Regions from separate parts of the Homo sapiens genome. Here all the other regions are reported to be linked to region 3. The links are microRNA targets in miRTarBase. Many come from high-throughput screens and were not tested one by one. Region 3 holds a microRNA gene; each other region holds the end of a gene's coding sequence.

Evidence for each region. Region 3 holds the annotated microRNA hsa-miR-621 (GGCUAGCAACAGCGCUUACCU, at 4,246-4,266, opposite strand). A microRNA usually pairs through its seed, bases 2 to 8, with sites in the 3' UTR of a target mRNA and lowers its output. Matches are read on the target gene's strand: a 7mer-m8 pairs with bases 2 to 8, a 7mer-A1 pairs with bases 2 to 7 and ends in A, and an 8mer does both.
Region 1: miRTarBase lists FOXO3 as a target of hsa-miR-621. The part of its 3' UTR that is shown has no 7-base or 8-base seed match.
Region 2: the mRNA of GRPEL2 is a reported target of hsa-miR-621. Seed matches in the 3' UTR shown: 7mer-m8 at 3,353-3,359.

The regions. Positions count from the first base shown.
Region 1 is chr6:108,663,441-108,670,563 of GRCh38, reverse strand. It overlaps FOXO3 (forkhead box O3), which reads right to left. Exons shown (of 3, transcript NM_001455.4): 2 at 5,675-7,109. The coding sequence ends at 5,709. Among named protein-coding and RNA genes, the nearest start is that of LINC00222, 85 kb to the left of the region's middle. RefSeq lists a silencer at 5,967-6,167.
Region 2 is chr5:149,350,028-149,357,150 of GRCh38, forward strand. It overlaps GRPEL2 (GrpE like 2, mitochondrial), which reads left to right. Exons shown (of 4, transcript NM_152407.4): 4 at 891-4,556. The coding sequence ends at 1,255. All of the region lies in intron 1 of GRPEL2-AS1 (GRPEL2 antisense RNA 1), which reads right to left. Among named protein-coding and RNA genes, the nearest start is that of GRPEL2-AS1, 4.1 kb to the right of the region's middle.
Region 3 is chr13:40,807,969-40,815,091 of GRCh38, reverse strand. MIR621 (microRNA 621) reads right to left here and starts at 4,326; the gene lies at 4,231-4,326. SLC25A15 (solute carrier family 25 member 15) reads right to left here. Exons shown (of 7, transcript NM_014252.4): 6 at 6,496-6,654; 7 at 2,632-5,549. The coding sequence ends at 5,425. It also overlaps the pseudogene TPTE2P5.

The DNA of each region.
Region 1 (7,123 bases), not on the chromosome of region 3:
CTCTTGGAAATAATGCAATTTCTCTTTGTTTAACATGGTATTTCTTAAACTTATTTGACCACAGAATCCATTTTCCATTTCACTATCTTGAGGATCTATGACTATCTTGAGGATCTAGTATTCCGAGAAACATTTTGAGAAACATTGACTTACAGGACCTCTAAATACTAATTTGCAAAACACATTTTAAATTCATTTTAGTTTCTGAAACTTTAAACTTCAAAACAATTTGGAGGATTGGGGAAAGCAATACTTTGAAATTCAATGAACACATCAACAAAACCAGGGTGAAGCAGGTGGTGTCTCCTGCAAGGTGGAGAATCTCCATCTTGGGATGAAAGTCCAGTAAATATGTGTCTCCAAGTCAGGGAAGAGAAAGCAGTCAGCAAACATTCTCCCACTTGGCCCAAGACCAAGGAGGACCTCTAGGAGGCAATCTCTCCAGCAATGGCAAAGCGGATCCCAGAAAGCCCCCTTCTCCCATCTCCATATAGAAAGATAAGCCTGTGAGAAGCACAGGTGGCCCCTGGGGGAAGACTCTACTGATAGAAAATGTTGTTTACAAGATGCTGCTGAGCATTATGAACACTCTAAGTTATAAATAGTAATTCTGGTGATTTTCACCCTGTTTGTGTTCTACATGAGCTCTCTGGACAGAAGAGACCTTCCAGAAAGCTGTTTATAAATACAACTGCTTGAAGGAGGAGCCACTCAGGCTCTGTCTCCATGCTTAGCAGGCTGGCCAGAGGTGAAAACAGGTGCATTTTATAAAACCAACAGGCCCAGGAAGAGCAGCCTTCATGCTAAATGTCACTGCTTTCCAGGAAAAAACAGCGTATGTAGCCAGTGTACCAGCCTCTGCAAAGAAAACCCCTTTTTATGGCCATATCAATTTTCTCTCGCGCTCATCGACACTAAAAAGATCCCAACATTCTCTCCCTGAATGACAGTTCAGACTTTCGGCTTTTTTTAAAAGGTAAGAATAAAGATCCCTGAAGATGCAGAATTCTTCAGGCTAGCATACTATAACCGAAGACTATAGTCATAGGTACAAATAGCAGAATATATTCTCCAGGTAATTCATAACAGATTCATATTTATCAGATGTTACATTCCCTAAAACAGAAATATCTACATCAATAAAAAACACGATACAGTCTATATTACCTGTATTTGGTTAGAATTAGTCCTATCCCCAACATAAATTTTAAAGACATACTAGAATCACAGCATTCAAACATCAGTCAAACAAGCATCAAAGATTTACTCCTTTTGGGAAGTAGCCTACACGTAAATTCCAAATGGCTTCCAATACTGCAGCCTGCTGATGCCACACTAGTACACCACTATTTCTTTCTAGCTCTGTATCATAACATAGACTTCACCAGGTCCATTTCACAGACAAAATGTTAGGGTTCAAGTTTATTTAGTTTTTATTTTTTTTATTTTTTGAGACGGAGTCTTGCTCTGTCACCCAGGCTGCAGTGCAGTGGCGCAGTCTCAGCTCACTGCAAGCTCCGCCTCCTGGGTTCACGCCATTCTCCTGCCTCAGCCTCTCCGAGTAGCTGGGACTACAGGCGCCCGCCACCACGCCCGGCTAATTTTTTTGTATTTTTAGTAGAGACGGGGTTTCACCGTCTCGATCTCCTGACCTCATGATCCACCCGTCTCGGCCTCCCAAAGTGCTGGGATTACAAGCGTGAGCCACTGCGCCCGGTCTTCAAGTTTAAAATTATACATACTATGCACCTTTAAAACTTGATGAGGCTGTCTTCTTTTGACAAATGAGAAACCTAATATTCTACAAGATTGAGTGATGTGGCAGAGACAAGAAGTGAACCACCCCTCCCCTCTCCATCTGGGCTTTTGCTGGTGGATGCTTCCCAGTCTTTATGTAAAGTACTTTAAACTAAATATTGGGCTGCTCCCTAATGGTGTCTCCAAATGTCAAAAGATGAAGATGAATGAAAGTTTGTGAATGCAGGCATCTTTGATATCAAATTAAGGTGAGACTGAAGCTGGTTTCCCTCAGAGAGGACACATGTCGAACTCAAGAAGGCTTACCGGAAGCTCGAGCTTGCAGCACCACACCAGCTCATGACCATCTCTGCCACCAACTGTAAGCACATGCACCAAGCTTTATGAACACCTGAGAGAACACAGTGCCCTTCACGACCCAGCAGCCAGCCCTCCAAAAAAGTATGGCTATTTTTTCTTTTCCAGATAGACCTAAGGGTCAAAGAATTCTACACGTGGTCTAAAATGAATGACGTGTGAAACACCCAGCCCGCCAGAGAAGCATCTTGCTGCAGCTCCCCAGCAAGACTGCCTGTCAACTGAGCAGACCGCTCCATTAACACAAGGCGGCTCAGATTCAGCATCACATGACCTTCTTCTGTGAGCAAGCCAGGAATTCAGTCTGGAGAAACACTAAGAAGTTAAACCAAGAAAGTTATTAGAGAGCAACTCTTGGGAAGCTGGGACAGTTAATTTGAGAGAAGCAGGGTGTCAGAGTCTGACCTCAGCCTCGTTCTGTGAATTTAGGAGAGTCTTCAATGAAGTGACAGTCACAGTTAAGTTTTAAAGTAAAAAATACACTTCAGGTTGCATGTGCTCCTGGCTGCTGAAAGAACAATGGATTCTAAGCAAAAATGGAAATCCTAAACCAGAAACTAGATCCCCTCACAGCCCCCACTGTCCTTTGGATGGTTCTTTAAATGCTCTGTGGTCATACTGAGCTAGTCTACTTTCAGGAAAATTTGGTGACTTTTCATTTTTAGCTGAAGAAGTTATCTTCTCAAAACAACCTCCCCCAAAATATTCTGAGGCGAAGATGACCCTAAAGCTTCATTAGGATATAACAATGAAATGCATTATCCTCAATGCAGTCATTTATTATCATCACCAAAATCAGAGTTCACCAGATAAACTTTAAAAATCTAAGTATTTAGATCTCCCTTAATTTTCTGTACAATCCTTTAGAATTACACATATACGAGAAAGATCTGCTGTTCAACCAAAAGGGAAACCAACACTTGAAAAATCAGACAAAAACTGATACTACATTGTCTTCTGAACACATATTTTCCAACGAACTAGAAAGTGGCCTCCTTACAATTACACTCAAATTAAAACTTACTTGTGTCTTTAAAAGCCTATTTTTAAAGGAAGACAAACCATTTATTCTTTTAAAAGCCAAACATCTACATTTCTAAAGACAAATCTTCCATATTCTTCTCCTTAAAGGAAGACAAACTAGTCTTCTAAAGGCCAAATATCTACATTTCTGAAGTCAAATCTCCACTAGCCCAAGTTCTGGTATGGAACTGAGCTGGCTGGCATGGAAGTACTACCACCCTACTTAGCTTCCATTACAGTCTTTTCACCATCTCAAGGGCTATTAAATGACTGAAATCAGATATCTGAGTTCCATTAGGGGTCTCTTAGGCCTGAGAAAGTTGAGAGGCTTTAGCATCACAACACTCTTAACATTCCCCTTTCTGCAACCACCCGTGAGCTGGAGTGAGCTCACCATAGGAGACCCTTGTTAAGTCCTTCATCATGGCAGAGGGTTAAACAAGGCTCAAGTTTTTACAGCTTTGAATTCCCTTGCTTTTTACACCACTTAAAGAAGCCTGTAAGTAGCTTGCTGAGACTAAAACAAAACAAAGCAAAAGGGCTGGGGCACGGAACAGAACCTGTTAACATCGAGGTGGCTAGGGGTGCAAACCTGTTGGTAGAAGATCCCAGTGTTCATCTTACTTCTTGAGGAGGAGAGTTTTTAGGGAAAGCTTGTCTATCATCTGCTACTTTGACTCCAGTTCAGGGCACTTCCCTCCCCTCCCCGCTTTTTTTCTAACCAGCTAGAGAGAATAAGGAAGAACTACTATGGGGGTTCAAGCCATTTAAGAAATGAATCTAGGCCGGGCACGGTGGCTCACGCCTGTAATCCCAGCACTTTGGGAGGCTGAGGCGGGCGGATCACAAGGTCAGGAGATCGAGACCATCCTGGTGAACACAGTGAAACCCCATCTCTACTAAAAATTAAAAAAAAAAAAAAATTAGCCAGGCGTGGTGGCGGGCGCCTGTAGTCCCAGCTACTCAGGAGGCTGAGGCAGGAGAATGGCGTGAACCTGGAAGGTGGAGCTTGCAGTGAGCCGAGATCGCGCCACTGTACTCCAGCCTGGGAGACAGAGCAAGACTCCATCTCAAAAAAAAAGAAAAAGAAAAAGAAAAAAAAAGAAATCAACCTAGCTCTGTAACCTTGGGCAAACTACTTAACCTCTCTGGGCTACCTGCTTGCCCATTTGTCAGTATACCTAGTTGCATGGTACATATTTCAGCCTACTGCAGTTTCACATGCTTTAGTGCATTTGATTCTTGTAATAACCCTGTGAAGTAATGGGGGCTATTATCCTCATTTTATAAAACTGGAAGTTGAGACTCAGAGACCTAAGACACAACCATAGTGGTAGCAAGAAAGTGGTAGAAGTGGGCCTGAACCTCAATTCCTGATTTCAATCAAATGCTTTTTCTTACATCACACTGCCTGATCTTTGTGGTTCTGAGAACATTAAAATGCCACAATTGAAAAAATCTCCATCACCATTCACAACCTGTGTCACTCTATGTTTGGAAACTGCTGATATCATTTATAGTTTGGTGAACAAGCAGAAGCACACGAGTAAGTACTCCCTCATACAAACACCTGTGTTTTCAAATTAATTTTTTGGCTTTTTTTTTTTTTTTTTCTAAGAGATAGGTTCTTGCTTTACCACCCAGGATGGAGTGCAGTGGCACGATCATGACTCACTGCAGCCTCAAACTCCTGGGCACAAGGGATTCTCCTGAGAAGCAGGGGCTACAGGTATGTGTCACCACACCCAGCTAATTTTTTAAGTTTTCTGTAGAGACAGAGTCTTGCTATGTTGCCCATGCTGGTCTCTGACTCCTAGCCTCAAGCAATTCCTGCTTCAGTCTCCCATAGTTGTGGGATTATAGGCGTGAGACACTGTGCCTGGCCTCTTACTTTTTTAAAGGTTTAGCTCTTGAGTGCTAGCTAATAAAGATGCTTAGTACTAAGATAAAGAATAATTAACAGATTTTGCTTCTGTTAGAAATATTCATATATGAAAGAGTCTAGAATACATATTCTGCAGGCAAATTAGAAGTACCTGCCGATCATTACTTTACAAGGAAAAAAAGATGAAGAACATGTAACACTGAAGATTGACAAAAGCGGTGACGGACCAGAGAGTCTTTCTAGGAAAGCCCTTTGGCTGGGATCCTTAACCCTGAAGTACGACCCAAGCTTCCCATCCCTCTCCTTCTCTTCTCATCCATCCATCAAGTAGGGCAACCTGCGTCACAGGCCAGTGAGGACAACTGGATGCAAAAAAAGAATGCGATCTCTGAATGCGTACGTGTTCTCTTCACGAGCAGTAGATTTCTGAACTATCAGCAAACTGTGCGGGGGAAGGGGGGCACCTGACAGCCCTATTTGGTTTGCAGGTAAAACCCTGAGATGGAACTGGCTGGGAGCCATATTATGTGCACCACTGCTCCATGGTTTTCAGTGTGGAATAAAGTTCAAAGTAAAGAGAAGACAGGCTCCCCCAGAGATCCCCCCTCATCCCCATATTGTTATTTTTATGCCATAGCATTCGGCACTGACCTGCTTTGCCCACTTCCCCTTCCTCAGTGATCCTTCAGCCTGGCACCCAGCTCTGAGATGAGGCCTGCTTAGCACCAGTGAAGTTCCCCACGTTCAAACCAACAACATTCTGTGTGGAGATGAGGGAATCAAAGTTAAAATCCAACCCATCAGCATCCATGAGTTCACTACGGATAATGGACTCCATGTCACATTCCAAGCTCCCATTGAACATGTCCAGGTCCAAGTCGCTGGGGAACTTCTCATGGCCCATGACGGGCAGGTTTGCACTAGTTGAGTACAAGGAGGAGCCTGAGAGAGAGTCCGAGAGGGTTTGCATAGACTGGCTGACAGGAGACTGCTGCTGGTGTTTGGCTGACCCAAGGCTGCTGGACTCACTCAAGCCCATGTTGCTGACAGAATTCGACAAGGCACGGCTGCCACCAAGAGCGCCCTGGGTTTGGTGCTGGTGGTGGAGCAAGTTCTGATTGACCAAACTTCCCTGGTTAGGCTGGGCAGCAAAGGACATCATCGGATCATTGCGAAGCATCACGTTCCGGCGGGAATTCTGGGCAGACACAGCGGTGCTGGCCTGAGACATCAAGGGGTCCGACTGTGTCATCATGACATCGCTGTGGCTAAGTGAGTCCGAAGTGAGCAGGTCCTGGAGTGTCTGGTTACCATAGTGTGACATGGAAGAGAAGGTAGCTGGCTTGTTCTCTTGGATGGTCTGCATGGGAGACTGGCGTAGGGAGTTCAGAGATGAAGGTCCGAACACCGTGCTGTTAAAGGAGCTGGTTGGGGAGCCCAGGCCCGAGCCCTTGGTGGTATACGGGAAGCTAGAGCTCCGCTGCATGAGTCCCCCAGTGGGCGATGGCTGGGATGGCGGGAGCGTGATGTTATCCAGCAGGTCGTCCATGAGGTTTTCAGTCAGCCCATCATTCAGATTCATGGTGCCTGCCATATCAGTCAGCCGTGGCAGTTCCACCGTGCACGGCTTGCTTACTGAAGGTGACAGGCTGGCTGAGCTGCTGTAGAGCATGGGCGAGAGAGGCGCATCATCGTCCTGGACTTCATCCAACTCTGTGCTTGCCATGATGGGCGACAGGCGGCCACTGACTGTGCTGGCGTTAGAATTGGTGCGTGAACGGAAGTCCGTCCACGCATCCAGCTCATCACTGCTGCGTGACGTGGGGCTGCCAGGCCACTTGGAGAGCTGGGAGGGACTGTCGTCAGCTGATTCGGGGGCTGTCTGCAGGGCTGCCTTCTTCTTGGCTGCGCGGCCACGGCTCTTGGTATACTTGTTGCTATTGTCCATGGAGACAGCCCGCCGCCGGGGGGCTTTTCCGCTCTTCCCCCCATCAGGGTTGATGATCCACCAAGAGCTCTTGCCAGTTCCCTCATTCTGGACCCGCATGAATCGACTATGCAGTGACAGGTTGTGCCGGATGGAGTTCTGCAGGGAGAAAA
Region 2 (7,123 bases), not on the chromosome of region 3:
AATGAGACTCAGTCTCAAAAAAAAAAATGAAAAATGTCTTTGACTTCAAAGTCAAAGACCTAGCCTGTTTTGACACAAGGCCTTAAGCCTGTCCCTGGATTAAAGTCAGATTAACAAAGTCCTTGACTCTCACCAGCCCCCACTGGAGCTTTGGTATCGTGTCATAGACCTCTCTAATGATGACTTTCTTGCCCTCATTTCTGTAAGAAAAATCAAGTTTTAGAATTGAGCGTAATGGGATTTCTCAACAACTGAATTTACTTTTGTCTTGTAACAGTTCGTATGACTCTTTTAAAAAATCAGACAAGTTTTGTGGTCCATCTCTAGCAACTTCATAGCCAACTTACCTCATCTATGGCTGTGTCTTACTTTCGTGTTCCTATTTAGCCAGTCCTCAAGAATAAACCATTCATGACACCCCTTAGCATAGTGTTGTTGACTTTCTTTTTTTATTGTTAGTGCCCTTCTCGTGAAATATTAATGTCTTGTCCCTGTTGAGAATGTATGCCATAGCACAACTGGGACAGGCAGGAATTTTCAAAATGTACATAATACTACAAGCAAATAGCAACAAAAATTCATGTACATAAAAATAGTTGTTTTTAAAGAACAGGTTTAAGCCTGTTGTGTATAGTCTTACCTAGTTCTTGGGTTCTGTCTTTTCCATTTCCTAGTCAAGTTCCTAGTCATATATGCCTTCTGAGAGAGACACTGACTTGTCAGTTGGGTTGGGGTGGTAATCAGTGATGATCTCTGAGTCCTGTGTGGCAACCTTTCCACTTGCTGGACTACTCAGCATACTAGCCGTCTATCTAGGCCTTACCCAAACTCTATGCCCACGGGCAGAGTGATTTCCTCACAAACAATAAAAATAACTGGCTTCTCTGCAGGAATCCAGAGTTTCTGTAAGGACTTGGTGGAGGTGGCTGACATTTTGGAGAAGACTACAGAGTGCATTTCTGAAGAATCGGAGCCTGAGGACCAAAAGCTCACTCTGGAGAAGGTCTTCCGAGGGTTGTTGCTTTTAGAAGCAAAGCTGAAAAGTGTGTTTGCCAAGCATGGCCTGGAGAAACTGACACCCATTGGTGACAAATATGACCCCCATGAGCATGAACTCATCTGTCATGTGCCAGCTGGTGTTGGGGTGCAGCCTGGCACCGTGGCATTAGTAAGACAAGATGGCTACAAACTTCATGGCCGCACCATTAGGCTTGCCCGAGTGGAAGTGGCAGTGGAGTCTCAGAGAAGACTGTGAAGAGGCCATCAGGAACTGGATGTTCTCCCAGAGCGCAGTCACCTATGTTTCTTTTATTTATTAAACTAGGTTTGTATTGTACATGAGGTACTTCATGTGATATGTTTTGGATTTAGTCATATTGGCTTTATTTCTAAGATATTCTATTGATTTAATGTGACCTGTTTGGTCTCATCAGAAGTCTTACCATTGGGCATTTGAACAGTGTGACAGGTGTTCCAATGGCCTTTATCAAAACATGTTTAGGAAAATTGGTACTGTGATAAATTTGAATCCAAAATCCTTTTAACTATGGGTTTTCAACTACATGTTTCTTCCTAGCGGTCTCTATAACAGGAATTGTGTAGTATCTTGTATTTTGTGGAAAAAGGAGATGGTAGGGATTGGTTCAACATTTGGGTACTTAGAGGATAAAGCTTCGTGGTCGTATAAATTTAGATCATTTGGATTGATTTTTATACACATAGATTTTCAGGACTTTACCTTTTGTTTTGTTTTTTTCCTTTTAGCCATCTTTTGTTCTTGTAATCCCAACTAGATAGGCTTTATGCTCACATCATTGTCCCATACCCACCCCTTTCTCATCCCCATTTGCAGGGGCTAAAGGTCTAGATGAGACTTGGAAGGCAAGGAGCATCGAAATTTGAGATACCCAGGACCCTTTCAAGCAAGAATGGCCAAAAAGCCTTGTGCTGTCTTTGCTCTTCAAATTATTTTCAGCCTCCTTGTCATATAATCATTTCAGGCAAACTGAGGCAACACTAACAGCTAATGACCCAGATGGCTCTATTTGGGTAATTTACCTACAACTTATTCCACCAGCCTTTACTCCTCTGCCCTTTTGTCAATTTTACCTTATAATCCTTTATTAAATGATGGGAGGTGGTGATCAGGACAAAAGTGTTAGGTTCCCATGATTTCTCATTTCATTTATTAATAGTTAATGCTGAATTTTTTTTTAAGTTTCCTCTGGCTCTATTTATGTTACTTTTTGCGATAAGAACACTTAACATAAGTATTCTCTCCTCTTGGCAATTTTTTTTTTTTTTCCTGTGTTGCCCAGGCTGACCTCCAACTCCTGGGCCCAAGCAATCCTGCCTCAGCCTGCCAAGTAGCTAGGACTACAGGCGTTCACCACTGCGCCCGCAAAGTTTTTTTGTTGTTTTTTTTTTTAAGTTGGTACTCACAAATCACTACCTCTGTTATATTGACAAGCTCTATTTCCTATTCTTTGTATCTGTTAAGTCACATCTGTGTAAACATTGAGCTCACCTTTTATATATTAACCTCTAGAATTAATGGGCCTATGTGGTTTTTTTTCAGTCTTATAGCTGGTGTTCTGTAAAAGATTTGTCCAATAAACGACTTAATGAATGATACATCAGTCAGATTTTAGGAAGGCAGTCAATTATGGATATTTTAATGTTGGAAGAGGCCTTAATGATCAAATCTCACCCTTTCTGCTTCTGAAGTATGAAAATCTAGTCTTTTTAGGACTGGACACAAGGAAAATAATCTCTAAACTATTGACTAAATTCCAGTGAGAGTATGAATGAAGAACAACTAGATATTAATGTCAATCATTTAAGATTAATGGGCATGCAATTAAGTCTCCATTTAAGATTAATGGGCATGCAATGAAGTCTCCAGCAGACAATCAGATGTTGTTGGATGTCTAGATTATATAGGTTTAGGTTGAAGTTATAAAATAAAATAAAATTCATTTTCCACTGGAACTCTATGACATTCAGTGGAGTGGTGGAAAGTTAACCTCTTATACATTATAGATAATTCTAAGACAGCACACAAACTTATCAATAAAGCCATCTCCTTGTGGGCCTTACCATCTTCATCAGATTTAGACCCTTAAAAAACAAGTAAATATGCACTTTTAAAATGCAATCAAAAGACTGGTGGTTAAGCTTGTAAAACCAGAACATCTTTTGGCATTCCACTAAGTATATATTGTAAATTTAATGAACAATCAAGGTTCACAATAGGAAGTTGTCTTTTTTTGCCTTCCATTCTGTGAGATTTGACAGATGGTGACAATAAGAAAATGAGCTGATTGTAATTACTCTCTGTGTGTTTTTTTATTGCTAGCTATCATTACCAGTTAGAATTAACATTAATTACAATTAACAATAATTTTAGGTATGGAATGTTATGATTACCTAAAGAGATGTCTCTACCTAATGAGCTCAAGTGATCCTCCCACCTCAGCCTACCAAGTAGCCAGGACCACAGGCAAGTGCACCACCATGACTGGCTAGTTTTGTTTTTTGGTTTTTGGTTTTTGGTTTTTGGTTTTTTTTTTTTGGTTGGTTGGTTGTTTTTTACAGGCGGGGTCTCACTATATTGTCCAGGCTAGAAGAATTTTCTAATGGTCTATTACACCTCCCGTTTTGGCAAGTAAATTCAGAATAATTTTAGGTTCTTTTGTTATTCAGTAGTTTTGCAGACTTAAAAGTGTAAATTTAGAATTAGAAGATGAAGCTATAGTAGTAAGAATCTCAAGCTGAAGGGCTTTGGGGAGCCAAAGCAGCATATTAGAGCATAGGCTTGAACTTAAATCTCAGCTCAGTCACCTGCAGGACTTTAGGCACCAGTGATTTCACCCTTCTGAGCCTGTTTCTTTATTCGTAAAATGATTATAATAATTCTTTCACAGCGTTGTGAGGATTAAGTGAAATGTGTTAAATGCCTACTACAGTAGGTGCTCAGATATTTATTTTTATTTTTTTATTATGCACATTGTTTTTCCTGCCTTTTTATGGCTGTCTAAAGTCTAGGGAAAAGGGAAGACTGGTTAATGATGAGTAGAAAAAACTTGTAAGCTAATCATTCACTGACTTATTTTCCTTCCATTTTCTGGTTTTTAAAATTAGCCACACCACAGGAAACCCACATTTTTAGATGGAAAGAGCAAGAAAATTGTGTCAGTGCTCTTAGTTATTTTCATCTTAATGGTATAGTGAAAAGACATTGACTTGAGATGATACTAAGGAAGCTTTGGCTCACTCTCACTTGAAGAGGGGATCTTGGTGTTGTAGTACTTGGACTGTACAAATGTTTTACTGACTTTTCTTACTGCTGTAAAGGAATCAGGCAGTTGGGTATTGATATGTTATTTGGTGCTCTCATTCATGGCAAAGGATTTGATAAATAAAAGTTCTTTAAACACTAAAGCAAAATCAAATGAGCAAAACTAAGGATGAAATGTAATATTCATCAGAACAAGGATCACTGAGAAAAAATATTCAGAAACAACTTTAATAAAACCTGAATTGAAATAACTGCAGCTCTGGTGTTTAGAGTCTTTGTCTGCCTATTCGTATTGTATATGGAACATTATGGTCACTTCATGACTGCTGACCTGCCTTGTTGATGCTCTGGAGAGGTACCTTGAGATCTCATAGCAGCATAGCCAAGTGGATGCACTGTGGGCTTTCCCCACCCTGCCTCCGTGTTGAAGTCTTGTCTGTTTTATTCCTCCTTGACTTGCCTCTTTCTGATTGCTACATATTTCTTAGATCTGGATTCCTATTTCTGCCTTTTTTTTTTTTTTTTTTTTTTGAGATGGAGTTTTGCTCTTGTTGCCCAGGCTAGAGTGCAATGGCGCGATCTCAGCTCAGCGCAACCTCCGCCTCCCAGGTTCAAGCAATTCTCCTGCCTCAGCCTCCCGAGTAGCTGGGATTACAGGCACCTGCCACCACGCCTAATTTTTTGTATTTTGAGTAGAGACAGTTTCACCACGTTGGCCAGGCTGGTCTTGAACTCCTGACTTCAGGCGATCCACCTGCCTCGGCTTCCCAAAGTGCTGGGCTCACAGGCCTGAGCCACTGTTCCCAGCCCTATTTCTGCCTTCTTTTCTGGCATTGACTTGTTTTCTTGGGTTCGCCTTTTGGTTCTAGGTGTCTTATTTCCTTTGACTACTGCTGACTATTCTCCTAACCAGATTACAGACACTTGGCCTTGTTCTGACCTTCAGCTTCCCCATGTCCTTCCCACCTTGTGACTGCCTGGCCTTGTCTTTACCTCTGCTTCTCAGCTAGCTTCCATATACCTAGACTCCTGGCTGAATGGCCCTCTGTTGGGCCAGCCTTCCCTGGGATTTGGTCTTGCGTTTTCATTATCTTTCCAATACTGTCTGTACACTGTAGCTCCATAAACCATGTGTCCCATATTCCCAGTGCTAGTCAGTGAGTATATTCTTATTCCTATCCACTCAGATGTCCATGCTCTCAAGTTCACTGTAGTTTTAAAACATGGCTCCAGAATTTCTTGACACCTTTGTTGAGTAGGGCCCATGTCCATTCTTGAGTTTCCTTGGAGCTTTGTGATTGCTTGACCAATAGAATACAGTGGAAGTGACACTGCCATTTTCTGGACCCAGATCTTAAGAAACTGGTATCCCCACTTCCTGTCTTGGGATGCTCACCCCTGGAACCTTACCATCGTGCCAAGAGCAAACTGAAGTAGCCTGTGGAATGGAACTGAGGGCCCTGGTTGAGCTTTCAGCTGAGCCAGCACTGTCTTGCCAGCCAGTGAGCCATCTTGAAGGTGGATCCTCCCACACCCAGTGGAGCAGCCCCAAATGATACCACATGGAACAGATGAGCTGATCTCACTGAGTCCTGCCTGAGGTGTAGTGTGAGCAAAACAGATGACTGTTACTTTAAGCCACTACATTTTTTAATGGTTTGTTACACAACAGCAGATAAAATGATACAGTCACCCCACTGCATTCCCAGTCTGGCACCTTTGTGCCACAAGAATTGTGCCTACTTGCTTTTCCCTTATCAGCTCTTTCGAACCTCTCTTACAATGTTGATGAGCGCACACATTGTCAATGGGCTAGTAGGGTTGGAAGGGCTTCCTAACAGAAAAAAACAGCTCTAGATTTAAGAGTTACAAAGGACCCTAAAATTACAAGCAAAGTATAGTCAAGAAGATGAATTTGAACACTAACATGATTTACCCTACAAAAAAATGACAAGAATCAGAATAAGTTCATAAGAGAATTTGGCACATAGTGGTCAATGAGTGCTTGTTTTAAAAACTGTTTAAGGGAGTATCTTGAACCTTTGGAAATGAACTTAAAAGGTGTTGCATCCTGACACAAACATTGCCAAAAAAAAAAGTTTAAGATTATGACAAATGCATGATTATTCATCTACCAGTTTACTAGTAGTAATCCAGTTTGGCCCAAGTAAATTAAGTCTCAGTGCTGAGTTAGAACCCCAGCTATAAGCTCTTTCACCATTCTCTGAATCACTTCAGTTTTTTGTTTTTGTTTTTGTTTGAGTCAGAGTCTCGCTCTGTCACCCACGGTGGAGTGCAGTGGTACAATCTCGGCTCACTGCAACATGTGCCTCCCAGGTTCAAGCGATTCTCCTGCCCCAGCCTCCCGAGTAGCTGGGATTACAGGCGCACACCACCAAGCCCAGCTAATTTTTGCATTTTAGCAGAGATGAGGTTTCACCATGATGGCCGAGCTGGTCTCGAACTCCTGACCTCAAGTGATCTGCCCACCTCGGCCTCCCAAACTGCTGGGATTACAGGCATGAGCCACTGTGCCCGGCCCAGTTTCTTATTTTAGCCATAATCTCACTGAGTAAATATGGATTTCATTTATTTTTATATATTTATTTATTTTTAAAGACAGGGACTCTTGTCACTCAGGCTGGAGTGCAGTGGCACAATCATAGAACACTGTAACCTCAAACTACCGGTCTCAAGCCTCCCACCTCTGCCTCCTGAATAGCTAGGACTACAGGTGTGCACCACCACTCCTGGCGAATTTTTTTTTTTTAAGAGACGGGGTCTCAGAGTCTCATTATGTTGCCCAGGCTGGTCTCAAACTGC
Region 3 (7,123 bases):
AAGATTAGAGAAAGTTACATAAACTGTATCCTCAAATATATTTTCCAAGTTGTTTATTCTCTCTTCTTTTCTCTCAGGAATGCCAATGAGTCATAGACTTGGTCTCTTTACATAATCCACTATTTCTCAGAAGTTTTGCTCATTTTTTTAAATTCTTTTTTTATTTTTGTCTGAGTTGTTTAGAAGAGCGCTGAGATTCTTTCCTCAGCTTGGTCTGTTCTGCTGTTAATACTTCCAATTGTATTATAAAATTCTTATAGTGAATTTTTCAGCTATCGAAGTTCAGTTTGGTTCTTTCTTAAAATGGCTATTTCATCTTTCAGCTCTTGGATCACTTTACTGGAATCCTTGGATTAGTTTTCAGCTTTCTTCTGAATATTGATGAGCCTCCTTGGCATCCAGATCCTGTATTCTACATCTGTCATTTCAGCCATTTCCAACTGGTTAAGAACCACTGCTAGGGAGCTAGTGGACTCATTTGGAGGTAAGGGGACACTCTGGCTCTTTGAATTGCCAGAGTTCTTGTGCTGATTCTTTCTCATCTGAGGGTTGGTATTCTTTTAACTGTGGTGTAAGTTGAGTACAGTCAGTTGGCTGAATTTCTTCATGTTTTCTGAGGGCCAAGGCTCTGTGCATTTGTGGTTGAATTCTTACCTTGGTTTTACAGGAAGGTATATTAGCAAACTATTTTTGTAGTTTGCTACATCTACTGAATTCCAGTAGATGGCGCTTAGGAGTAATGGTCGGTAGACAGATCTTAGCCACTTTGCTCCTTTGGATTTCCTGGTGTTTCTGGCTGTGCTCTGTGGTGCGGTGGGAAGAGAGGTGACCACCTCATCAGGTCCGCTCCTGGGCCCTGGGGGAGCCCCTTCCAACCAATGGCACTGTGCCCGTGTTTCTTTTGTCAGGTGCACTCCCTCAGGCAGAGGCTGAGGTAGGGAGATAGGCCATCCCTTTTCCAGACAGCTGGCCCTGCATAGGGAGGCATGCCCACTGCTGTGGTAGCCCACAGGTTCATGTAACTCAGCACTCTCAGTACTCTGAGAGTGTGGGCTCCTCTCCTGCTCTAGTGCCTGCTACAGATCTCGCCTTGGCACTTCCAAGCTGCCACACTGCAGCCCCAGTGCAAGCTCAGGCTTTTTGTTCCCTCCTCAGCTTAGGGTTGGGGCAGCTGTGCTGCTGGGCCCAAGCTGGGGGCCCTGCCTGAAGAGCAGGGAGGTCAGGCAACTCAACCCGGAAGACAGTCTGGCCTCCTCTCTGTAGAATGCTGACAAAGTAATCAGGCCCTTTGTTCCCTCCCTAGCCTGGGGGAAGCAAGGGCAGGTACTGTGGTGGCAGCAATGGCAGAGGCCTGTCAGTTGTTTCTGGGACCTCCATCCCAGAGAAACACAGAGCCACCACCAACTGATCAGGCAGGAGCTGTGCTGGGGGCCCAAGCCAGGAGGCACCCTGCCCAGTGAGCAGCAGGGCCAGGGACTCGTGGAAAACAGTCTGGGCTGCCTTTCCATATGTCAGCTATAGCAGGCTGGAGGCCCATGACCGCTATTGGGCTTTTTGCTCCCTCTCCAGCCTGAGGGCAGCAGGGGCACAGGCTACGGCAGGGCAGAGGGCCTGTTGGTTACTTCTGGGAGCTCCATCCCAGAGAAATGAGGGCTGTGACTAGCTGGAGTGCTCAGGTAGTGGGTAGCATGGCTGCGATGGAGGCCCAGGCCAGTGGGCCTTGCCTGGCAAGGTGCAGTGGAAGTGAGGCCTGCAATCTGTCCGCTCCTCAGCACCATGGATATGGCCCCTATCCTAGGGGCACACGAGAGAGCCTGGCCTACCTTGTTGGCCGGACTATGGCAGCCGGGGCCATAGCAGCTCAGGGATCCACATTGGCTTGAGCAGTGGCTCTGCCCAGACTCCAAGCAGCTCTCTGTGTCAGTCTAGAACCCCAGGGTGTGTGTGTGTGTGGGTGGGGGGGGGGGGGGGGGAGGGCAGGTGGAGTCATGGAGGATCTCCTGTGCCTGGGGATTGCCAAGGTCCATGGCAGAAGTGTGAGTCCCCAGGAGCCTTCACTCACTCACACTTTCCCTGCTGTAGGGAGCCTCCCCTTGCTCTGCACCAATCCCAGGTGGACAGCTGTCCTTCCTTACTCCCCTATGCTCTCCATGACTCACCACAGCTTCCCTGATGAATCCCAACACAGCCTGCTGGATGATCAACCTGAAGAGCTTGTGTTCACTCACCACTCTGTCTCCTCTTGTGAAGGCTGCGCACACTAGCTGCTTCTAGTCAGCCATCTTGGCACTTCAGATACTTGTTTTCTTAAGTAGAATTTAGTAACTTGGAATGGAATCATCCAAAACTTAAAAGCAGACAGTTTAACTATTTTTTAAAATAGAGGGAAAGAGGTGGAGGGAGAAAGTAATTCTAGTGAGCCAAGTTCCATAACTTCAGAGCATAGAAATATTTTTGTCACCTTACCTATGGTGAAATTATTTTACATGAGGTGTCTTGCTGACAGAAAACAATGCTTGTTGCAATAAAACCACTGCCTTGAAACACTACTATACATAACTCTTTAACATTCCTGACAGTTGTTTCCCAACATGGATGTAAAGAACTTCAATGAAATTCATCAGACTCAAATATTAAGTAAATAATTTAATGATAGAACACTGAAATTTCTTTAGACACAGTATTTTCAAGTTATATTTCTGCCTGGAGTACAGATATGAAATAGCACAAACTGTACTCTGAATTAAGCAAACAGAATGAATAAAAAAAAAATATTCTCCCAACCTAAGTTTCCGTTCCTCATTTCCACTTGCCTCAGACTCTTTCTATTGAACATATCTAGTTAAATCTCTAATGGACGGCCTGTGGGAAGATTTACTGCCAACAGGGATGACTGACTTCTTTCCGGACACTGAGCAGGGGACTGTGGGCTCTGAAGCAGTTTACTTCCTGTGGAAAGCCAGTCCCATTTCTATTTTACTTCGATCCAGGCCTATTCAGATAAAGCACCACTCAGTAGCTACTGACCATTTAAGTATGGAGAGAAAAGCAAAGTAGAAAAATGGTTTTCACTTAAAGAAAAAGCAAATGGAAGACCAGCCATAATAGCTCCATGGCACAAGAGACATGACAGGGATCTCCTCCCCAGATGTCCCCTGATGTTTGTCAGCCTCTCATATCCCTGGCCCTCTGGCTTCTGGCTCTGTGATTACAGTTGCCACAGAGGATTCATGGACAGCAAAAAGCTTAAGGAACCTGGAGGTTTTGTACAACATGTACATTCTGCTGACAGAAACACATACATGGTATGGACTATTATTAAAATTGATAGCCTGCTTGCACTCAGTATACAGGCTGCTTAGGAACACTTTATTGGGAGATACCCTGCTGGTGTTGGAGCAGCACAAAATGATGAGGCTAACTTAAGTAGTGACAAGAATGATCCTCTTATACCATATGGCCAAAGAACAGCTGTCCATCCCCAAGTCTATGGGGGATCAGATGAAGTGTGGAGTTTGGTTGGTTGGTCAGTGAATTTTTGGTCAGTGAATACATACATATGGCATAGTGAAGTACAATTGCTTTTCTTTTCTTTTTTTTTTTGAGATGAAGTCTCGCTGTGTCACCCAGTCTGGAGTGCAGTGGCACAATCTCAGTTCACTGCAACCTCTGCCTCCCGGGTTCAAGCGATTCTCCTGCCTCAGCCTCCTGAGTAGCTGGGATTACAGGCACGTGCCACCACGCCCAGCTAATTTTTGTATTTTTAGTAGAGATGGGGTTTCACCATGTTGGTCAGGCTGTTCTCGAACTCCTGACCTTGTGACCCGCCCGCCTCAGCCTCCCAAAGTGCTGGGATTATAGGCGTGAGCCACTGCGCCTGGCCTACAATTGCTTTTCTTATGTTCCATTGCTTTATAAACTCATATCACATATACAGTCATCATTAAGACTTACTGACTGCAAGTACCAAATGTAGAAGCCTCCAACACTGTAAAAGCATGGCAAGACAGGCTTCAGGATGGGTCAGACCTGACATTACTCACTGTGGAGTACAAGCACTGAGTTCTTTCTAGTTCTCTCTGAGAGAGGTTCACCCACTGTCACACAATCACCAAACAGGGAAGAAGGCTTCTCTTGGCTTTGGCTCTCACTGTTCCTTGGAAGGGTTTCTGATTGGTGGAGGCAGAGCAGACAGTGAGTGGCCCAAAGTGGATTGATGGCCCCAGGCCAGGACCCAGAGACAAAAGGTAAGCGCTGTTGCTAGCCACATGGGTCTTCATCAGAGCACAGCAGCACCGCCTACCACTCAGCCCCTTCCTCAATCTAAAGCCCAAGAAGGGAAGTTCTTTGGGAGAGAAGGGAAGCTGGTAAAGGCCATGCTATTTCCCAAAGGCCTGACCCTCTGGGCCACCCCTAGCAATATAGTCAGCGTGGAATATGATCCCACCTAGAAAATGAATGGCACTATTTTAAGAGTAGAGCATCTTGGGGAAATCTAGGATACCTACTCTGAAGCTTTTACTCAAGTGTGGAAGCCACACCAGTATGCAGGTATACTGTCTTACAAATCTAGAAGGATATTTTAGTTTTCAAGCACCCCATGAACACTTTTTAAAAAATTCAACCACTGGCTGGGCATGGTGGCTCACACCAGTAATCCCAGCACTTTGGGAGGCCGAGGTGGGCGGATCACTTGAGGTCAGGAGTTCGAGACCAACCTGGACAACATGGTGAAACCTCGTCTCTACAAAAAATACCAAAAAAAATTAGCTGGACATGGTGGCGCGTACCTGTAATCCCAGCTACTCAGGAGGCTGAGGTGAGAGAATCGCTTGAACCCAGGAGGCGGAGGTTGCAGTGAGCCGAGATCGTGCCACTGCACTCCAGTCTGGGTGACAGAGTGAGACTCTGTATCAAAAAAATAAAAAATAATCAACCACTTAGAAAAGTACACACATTAAGCAGACCCTACATCTAGAATGGGTTAAGCAACCATTTATAAGCATCTTCATGAGAAATGATCACCTCTGGGTTTTTCTGATATTTGAAATAAACAAGGTACCAAACTGTATTTCCCTCAACACATAACTGTCCAAATTGCATGTACAAGTGGAGGTTTACGTAAAAGCCCTGACAGAACTATATTCCACCTTTTGAATTAGGTGCATAAGGCTACTGACCACTCTATATTTTACCAAGAGCAAGAGCGGTCACTTTTCTATTTCAGTACAATTATGGACAGAAATGATATGATGCAAAATAGAGGTTCTTCCATAAAGTTTAAGATGTAGGGTAGAAGGGAAGACAAAAAGCAAAATTCCCAAGAAATCAGAATAACTTCACACTGGTCTTGTACTCCAAGAAACCCTGAGATGAACTGTAGTCCTCAAACACCTGTGCTTGGCTCAGGCCCACCAAGACACTTCAGTATGCTTCCAACTGGTTCATCATCAACTTCCTGCTATATTCGTAGGCCAAAAAGAGTGCTCCATTGGCAGGGAATGCTCGAATCATAGTAGGTTTCAGTCCAGAATATAAGGCCGTTATTCCTAGCAAATAAAAGGGCGGTCAAAGACTGCAACAATCCCTCCTTTGGGGATACCCACGCAGCTGCATAGCATAGGTATATTTACACATGCAAACCCAGACAACAGTGCTAAAAACCAACAAGTCATAGAAGGATGCATTCCCAGCTTTTCCTAAATAGACTAATGGAAACAAGGACAAGTATCAGGTCTCCTGGCAAAACTGACTGATGCTCAGGTAACATACCCCAATTCCACGCTTGGTTAACTCTTAGTATATGGATGGGGCAGAGCTGAGGCCTGAGATGGCCAGACAGAGGCAACCATGGAGATAGAGGTGGCAGCAGCTTTGCAGCTTCACCTGGGCAGTGGCAGGAACACCAACCTTGAAGTTGGAGACCTGTGTATAGTATTAGTACTGCCCAGGGTGGTTATGAAGATTGAATTAGATAAGGGAGGTGTAAGTACTTTGTAAAACTTTACATGTTATACAAATGTAAGGGAGGATTACTATGAGTAACAGACAAGGTATCTGTCCTCTATTTGGGACACAAAGTTTCTGTGTTACTGTCCTCTTTCTTTTTACAATCAAAACAGAGTTCATATCTCAGATTTTTTTTTTTTTTTTTTTTTTGAGACAGAGTCTCGCTGTTGCCCAGGCTGGAGTGCAGTGGTGCAATCTCAGCTCACTGCAAGCTCCGCCTCCCAGGTTGACGCCATTCTCCTGTCTCAGCCTCCCGAGTAGCTGGGACTACAGGTGCCTGCCACCACGCCTGGCTGATTTTTTTGGTATTTTTAGTAGAGACGGGGTTTCACCGTGTTAGCCAGGATGGTCTCGATCTCCTGACCTCATGATCCACCTGCCTCAGCCTCCCAAAGTGCTGGGATCACAGGCATGAGCCACCACGCCCGGCCCGTATCTCAGATTTTAAGATGTATATAGATGCTTGAAAAACAGGTATTTACTCACCTTCATTTTTCACAACATTTATAAAGGTTCTGATAAATCCTGCCTGTTTTCCAGACATGGAAAGAACTTGAATTCTGGATTTGATACAATCCACTGGGTATACCGCAAGCCAGAGGCAAATCCCACCAACTCCACCACTTAACATCAAAGGTACAGGGCCTAGAGAAAAAAAAAATAGCAAATGGTATTTTGTCTCAAGAACAGCTGATGTGACATTTCCAGAGGTCAATGTAGTAATGGCTGCAGGTAGATGAAAATAAAAATGCTAATGCTACAGAATACAATTCTTTGAGGAAAACTGTCAAAGCTCTTGTTCCCAAGCTCTAAGAACACAGGGTTTTGTTTGGTAGCCCAGGTCTACTCCTGGGTCTTGCCAAGTACAAGAAGCCTTAGTGAGGGTTATATTTCGCTTGGTCACTGAGGTGTCAAGGGCTGGCCCACACGAACCAGCAGGCCTCCAGCTGAGTGGCAACCCCCTACAGTGGGGAGAAGACAGGCCAAACACAATCTATGTCTTTTTTCAACTTTCTCACTCTTAAGTATTTTAATAGCCCTGATTCTTCATTTATCATTAAAAGCCAAAATTGTTTTTATTAAACATAGCAATTAAGTCTGGGAGCTTGACTAA